Homo sapiens: one gene and its partner. The protein of the gene in region 1 purifies or fractionates together with the protein of each later gene. This does not show direct contact. Each region holds a gene or a part of one and is shown in the gene's direction. Other genes may lie near its edges.

Evidence for each region.
Region 2: the proteins of SNX20 (region 1) and SIRT5 purify together in Homo sapiens (affinity purification with mass spectrometry; one large-scale study listed by BioGRID and IntAct). This does not show direct contact.

The regions. Positions count from the first base shown.
Region 1 is NC_000016.10:50,674,813-50,678,312, reverse strand, and holds part of SNX20 (sorting nexin-20), read left to right. Parts: intron 1-777; 5' UTR 778-786; coding exon 787-916; intron 917-2,391; coding exon 2,392-2,543; intron 2,544-3,500.
Region 2 is NC_000006.12:13,591,601-13,595,100, forward strand, and holds part of SIRT5 (NAD-dependent protein deacylase sirtuin-5, mitochondrial), read left to right. Parts: intron 1-68; coding exon 69-294; intron 295-3,500. UniProt on the Homo sapiens protein: NAD-dependent lysine demalonylase, desuccinylase and deglutarylase that specifically removes malonyl, succinyl and glutaryl groups on target proteins.

The DNA.
Region 1 (3,500 bases):
TAATAAGCTATCAGTTAATTTTGCTGATAGATAGATTATTGATTGATTGATCGATAGAAGATTCATACCAGTATCTACCTGCTCTGAACACTGACCTTTCTTTTTTTCTTTTTGAGATGGTCTTGTTCTGTCACCCAGACTGGAGTGCAGTGGCATCATCATAGCTCACTGCAGCCTCAGTCTCTTGGGCTTAAGGGATCCTCCTGTCTCAGCCTCCCAAGTAGCTGGGACCACAGGCGTGCATCCTGGATAATTTTTTTTTATTTTTTCTAGAGACGGGGTCTCACTACATTGGCCAGGCTGGTCTCAAATTCCTGGGCTCAAGTGATCCTTCTAACCCAGCCTCCCAAAGCGCTGGGATTACAGGCATGAGTGGCCATGTTCAACTTGAACACTGAGACTTCATTCGCATGTGTAACATAAAACTGAGTATCTAGACAAGCCAGCATCTTTCTTTCAAGTAATCACTAAAGCCAATACTTTTACTTGAAATCATCTCATTTAAAACTCTGAGCAATACGTAAGGATCACCTCAATAACATATGGATCATCGCAATAGGTGAAGGGTCTTCTCTGCCTTGGAGTAACCTGCCCAGCAAAGGGGCAGACCCAGATTTGGGATCTGGCAGCTGGGAGAGTGGGGAAGGTTGAGCCGTGGGGCCCTTGTCATTCCCTCTGCCTGCCAGGAGGGGGCATGACACAGCTCCTAGGCACCCCAGGAGCCACCGGGAACCCCAACTGGAGTGGGTCCTCACTGTTCTCTTTTTCCTCTGGCAGCCTTGGAGCATGGCAAGTCCAGAGCACCCTGGGAGCCCTGGCTGCATGGGACCCATAACCCAGTGCACGGCAAGGACCCAGCAGGAAGCACCAGCCACTGGCCCCGACCTCCCGCACCCAGGACCTGACGGGCACTTAGGTGGGCTTGAGGCTTGAGACTCGGTCTGGGGGAGAGGTCTGAAGACATTCAAAGTACAAATGTGGGTCACTTTGGGGGATGCAGCAAGAGGCCCGGGCAGCTCTTGTAACTTGGGTTATCCCAAAACAGACACTGAGACACAGATCTAGTGCAAGCTGTTTATCCGGGAGACGGTCCTAGGAGTCATGGCAGGGGAGTGGGAATGGAAGGAAAGGGCAAGAGGCCAGGGCAGGACATCAGTGAACAGATAGGCACGGTAGGTGGCTGAAGCTCAACCCCAGCGGGGGTCTTCTGGGAGACCCTGGAACATATCTCTGGGTTGTCCTATCCTAGGGGTGAGGAAGCCGGGCTGTTATCTACCAGTCCTGCCCTGCATAGGAGAAGGGACGCTCCTGGGCCTGCTGCTATGGCCCTAGAAAGCCCTCAGGGAAGCCAGTGGCATGTTCTGGAAAAGTGGGTGCCAAGAGGGCACGGTCCAGCCTGGGGCATGGACAGCATCTGCTGTAGTGCCATCTCCTGGAACAGATCTTTTCTTACAGTCCTTCGAGATGCCCTATTCAATACCTGCTCTGTTCCTGGCCCTATGCAGGGCACTGGAGAAACAGAAACAGGAAGAAATCAAACACTGCACTAGTCCTGAGGTTTGGTAGAGAAACAGATCAGTGAGAAACAGTTACACGTGCCACGAGAAATAAATAAATAAAATGAAAAACCTGTAGGAACAAGGTGGGAAGCTCTTACTCTAATGCCAAGGGGCATTTGCAGTGATGTGGGGGCTGGGTCTTGAAGGGTAGACTGGAAAAGGGCTGGGACCCATGCCCTTTGCAATAAAATGCACAATTATTTGTGCTTCTTAAGAACCTCAGAGTGGCGCAGGGCTCAAGTGGGGTTTAAGAAACACTGTGTTCGTTTTCCAGGCGTGGAAATAGAGGGTTGGATGCAAGGCAGAGCAGTGCACGTCCGAGAAGAGCCCGGCATGTGGGCAGTTAGATGAGAAGGTTAGGAAGGGCCAGCCCGCTGAGGCTGGAACATAACATCCTCCTCACTGCCTCCCCTGCCCACTGATGTGTGCTCAAGGAGTCGTGGCAACAGTCACGAAGTCAGGGCTGCAGGGAGCACAGAAACACACAAGCCACCGTCTCTGCTTGTCCAGAGCAGGGATTTCACCATGGCCAATCTACAGACCAGAAGTGGACGATGCAAAGTGCCCGCACCGCATTCCAAAGCTGTGAAACCACTTGGGGGTGATGGGCTATTTGGGATTGTCGGTGGTAGGGTGGATTCTGCCAGGCTGGGCACAGAGGTCTGTCTGATGCCCCAATTGGGCCTATAAATGGCGGGGTGGGAGAGAGGGATATTCAATACTCTTCAGGAGTTCTGATATGCCATCTCAGATAGACCCAGCCATCTCCCCAAGCCCATGCCTCGGAAGTGCACTGACAGGGTGCAGATCCTTAAGGGTGTTGTCCTTCCAGACACACACAGTGGCCTGAGCTCCAACTCCAGCATGACCACGCGGGAGCTTCAGCAGTACTGGCAGAACCAGAAATGCCGCTGGAAGCACGTCAAACTGCTCTTTGAGATCGCTTCAGCTCGCATCGAGGAGAGAAAAGTCTCTAAGTTTGTGGTAAGCAGAGATTGGGAAATGGTGGAGCCTCTTTCACTCTGCTTCCTTCCTGGCCCTGAATAAGTCTTGTAGAGCCTCAGGTTTCCCAACTATGAAATGGGTCAACACACTAACTCACAGCTTTCTTCTGGAGAAAATGGCCAAAGAGCAAGATTTCAGGCTCAGCACCTGCTAGGGTCTGTGAGGATTCGAACCATATAAGTCATATTTCTTGGTCCCAAGAAGGAAATAGCCCAGTTTAATCCCATCTTATCAGGTGTCAGTCACCTGTGTCCTTTCTTCACCAATTTTGCCATATCACTGTATCTGTTCTAATTATTATTACTTATTTTTTTCTTTAAATTGGATCACTTTTTAAAAACATGAAGCACATTTATTTCAAAGAGAAATACCTTAAATGGAAAACCAATATCACATGGCACAAAGCAAAAGTAACATACTAGAAAAGTCGATACAAGGAAAGTCAATACAAGGAAAGCTATGTGCTGTTATTAAATTCTAGCTGGTTACTGTGGCTTCGGGAAAGCCCTGTGCCTGGGAGCTGCTCCTCTCCCTGTTAGAATGGAATTTTAGCTTGTGTTAAGGGATGTTAAAGACTGCCTAAGAGCCACACTTCATCCTTCTCCTTCACTTACCTGGGACCGGGATAAATAACATAGCTACCACTGAATGCCAATGGCATGCCGGGCACAGCTCCATGTGGTTTCAGTGCATTAACTCATTTAATCCTCACTGGGTGAGGTAGGCACTATGCCTATCCTTGTTTTATGAATGAGAAAAGTGAGACTCGGAGAGGTTAAATTACTCATCTAAAACCACACAGCTAGACCATGGTAGGGCTATAATTACAACCCATGCAATCTGGCTCTGGAGTCAGATGCATGGGTTATAATTGCCCTTAATATATAATTGCCCGTAATCAGGATTCTCTTGAAAGATGATTGAAAAGGATTGATT
Region 2 (3,500 bases), on another chromosome or scaffold:
TGTGCCCCAGGGTTCAGCATCCTGGCTGTCTCTGCCTCCCTCACTCCTGCCTCCTCTCCCACTCCCAGGACCTGGCGACTCCCCTGGCCTTTGCCCACAACCCGTCCCGGGTGTGGGAGTTCTACCACTACCGGCGGGAGGTCATGGGGAGCAAGGAGCCCAACGCCGGGCACCGCGCCATAGCCGAGTGTGAGACCCGGCTGGGCAAGCAGGGCCGGCGAGTCGTGGTCATCACCCAGAACATCGATGAGCTGCACCGCAAGGCTGGCACCAAGAACCTTCTGGAGATCCATGGTGAGAGACCCCCAGCCTCCCATTCAGGGAACCAGCTTTAAAACACCTGTCCTGCTGTTTCAGCATCACCTCTGGTGCCTTCCCTCCCTCCCTGCTGGACATCCGTCCTGTCCTATAGGATGCTGTGGCATTTCCTTTGGGGACATGTTAGTGTCCCGTGGCACCTGGGCAGCTGCCTTTGGCCATGGGAGGAGCCCCTGACCCACTAACATTATTCACTTAGCAGTTCCTCCATCCTCGCTGCTCAGGGTGGTCTAAGAGCCAGCAACATTTGGCGTCCCCCAAGAACTTGTTAAAAATGCAGAATCTCAGGCCCCATAGGCCCCACTGAATCAGAATCTGCATTTTCCCATGAGCCCAGGTGGCTGGCGTGCTTTTTATACTGGAGGAACGCTGGGGTGCACAGCTGCGTGACCCTTTCCTCTGTGGAGGGGCACGGTACTGTGAGACAATGGCCTCAATGAGCTGAGGAATAAGAGGCCTGGCCCATTGGACAGCTGGGGCTTGAGCAGGAGCAGACTGCAGCATCTTGGGGTCTCCTGTCACTCCCCCTTCATCCTGGTGGGCACTCCCCACTGAGGCTGTGCTTCTGCCCCGCCCTGGAGCCTCAGAGAGCTGCCAGCTCAGTGCTGGACACTGCACCAAGCCCACCAAGCCTGTGATGTCGGTGGACCCCACTGAGGCTGTGCTTCTGCCCTGCCCTGGAGCCTCAGGGAGCTGCCAGCTCAGTGCTGGACACTGCACCAAACCCACCAAGCCTATGATGTCGGTGGAGTTTGTCTTGGGTCCCTCTGGGCTCCTTCCTCTGTCCTGGGTAACCCCTCACCCCTTCACTCTTGTCTTCTGGCTCCTCCCTTCTTTGCTGTCACCACAAATCTAAAACATCCACTTGTCCACAGTCATAATGGGCAAACTAGGGTTTCCCCCAAGGCCATTTGCATTTAAAGAGTCTGCATTCAAATCCAAGGAATGCATTTCTTATTTTTTAAGCATTTATTTCTCTTAATTTAATTTAATTTAATTTTTTTTTTTTTTTTAGCAATGGGGGTTTCACTCTTGCCCAGGCTGGGGTGCAGTAGCCTGATCATAGCTCATTGCAGCCTTGAACTCCTGGCCTCAAGGGATCCTCCCACCTCAGCCTCCAGAGTAGCTGGGACTACAGGCACATGCCACCATGCCCAGCTACTTTTTAAAATTTTTGTGGAGAGTGTCTCACCATGTTGTCCAGGCTGGTCTCAAACTCTTGGCCTCAAGCAGTCCTCCCTCCTCAGCCTCCTAAAGTTTTGGGATTACAGGCTTGAGCCACTGTGCCAGCCAAAAATGCATTTCTAAGTGTAGCATTTCCAGAAGCAGTGCACCAGTCGGGGGTGTTTGTTTTTGCGTGTGTGTGGTGAAGCTGCCTGCTTTTACTTAGATCACCCTGATAAGGAAAGCGAGGCACTACTCATTTCGACTGTGTCTGTCTTTTGTTCATCAGGAACAGCCAGCCACCTATTAACCGAGCATCTTTTTGGTACCTACATCTGCTGGGTCTGAGCCACTTTCCATGTGCCTCTGCTGATTTCCCTGCAGTGTCAGAATGTGGGCTATGTCATCAGCATAAAACCGAGATGACAATGCCTATCTTATAGAATTGTTGTCGGGATTAAATAAGATCATATATGTGTGTTAGTCAGGACTTTTTAAAATTTCAAACGATGAGAACTCTCTTCTAACTTAGGTTAAAAAAAATCAATGGCATCTTCAGTCTGATGAAGGGTTTTTTTTAAGATGCATCATGTTTTTAATGTGGCATTTAGAATATAATCTGCCTAAACCATGATATACTATTTTATTATCCCTTAGAATTATTCTATACTTAGAGAAAGAGCTTGTTAAAACTTAGACACGTTCTTTAGAAATTATATCTTTCCAGGCATACATAAAGTATGAGTATGATAAACTGGTCCAAATATTTCTCATTATCTAGCTCTTCTAAATGATTCTGAGTGACTCAGAGCACGGATGTCTGTGTTTTCCATGCAGTTTCATGCTCTGTGTCTCGGGAGATGGATGATGCAGCGTTTCCTGAGAGAATGCCCCTCTGTTATAGCTGGGATTCTCATCCAAGCTCCTGACACACCTTCCGCAAGTTCGCTATTGGGCCTGACATGTTCTTACCAAAAGGCATCAGTGGAAAGGCTGTAGACAACAGCCAAAACTTGCTTTCCTTCCTGAAGTGGCCCTTGAAGGGTTTGTTGGCGGAAGGATCCAGGGGCTGAATCTGCCCGGTCAGGCCACGGAGAATAACAACAAAGTCACCCCATTTTTCAGTGTTCTCCTTCAACAAGTCTGTGCAAGCATGATGATGATGTTACAGTCTCATCTGGCCAGTAGCAATTGTAGGACACATCTGAATTTCAGAGATGTGAAAATGGGGAAAAATGTCTATGCTAAAACTGACAAAGTAGGTTTATTGGCTCACAAAACTGAGGAGCCTAGTGGTGCAGCTTATGTCATCTTTCCTCCCGGCCCCTGTCCCCCTCCTTCTTTCAGCTTTGCTCACTCTTTGAGGTGGCCTCCCTTCTCTCTCTGCAATTGATCTGTCTCCACGCGCCAAGGGAGAGTGCCTCCGACGGCTCCAGCTCAGCCACCTGCTCAGAAAATAAACCTCTGGGTAGGCTTGCTTGGTCCACACGCCCACCCTTCTGACCAAACACGACTGCAGAGGGATGGACACCACATGGGGGCCGTGCGCAGCATGTGGCTGAGCTTGTATTTGGGATGTGACCCACAGCCCTATTGGCTCAGCATGCGAGAGAGCAGGGATGGTGCTCCCCAAGGAAGGACTGGTGGGCAGGACGGAGCAGCGCATGTCCACTAGGGTTGAAAGTGCTCTGCACGGCACCAGTTGCCTGGTACCCATTTCATAAACTGTGGCCACCATGATTGCTTCAGCTCAATAAGTGGTGGTTAGTATTAACAATTACTTTTTTCACTTATTAGTTGATTACTTATTTATTGAGGTGCTTTTGTATAAAAGATTCAAGCTTTCTGAAATCGAAGTTAAAATTTTGTAAACATATCCCACGCCATTGAACCTTTGTCAGTCATGTCAATAAATCACGCCCTTAGATTTAGGTTGAGCTCCCTCTACCCTATTGGCAACTTCTGCCCACTTGAACACCACTCCAAGGTCATCTGATGGCACATTAGTCATGGAGTTA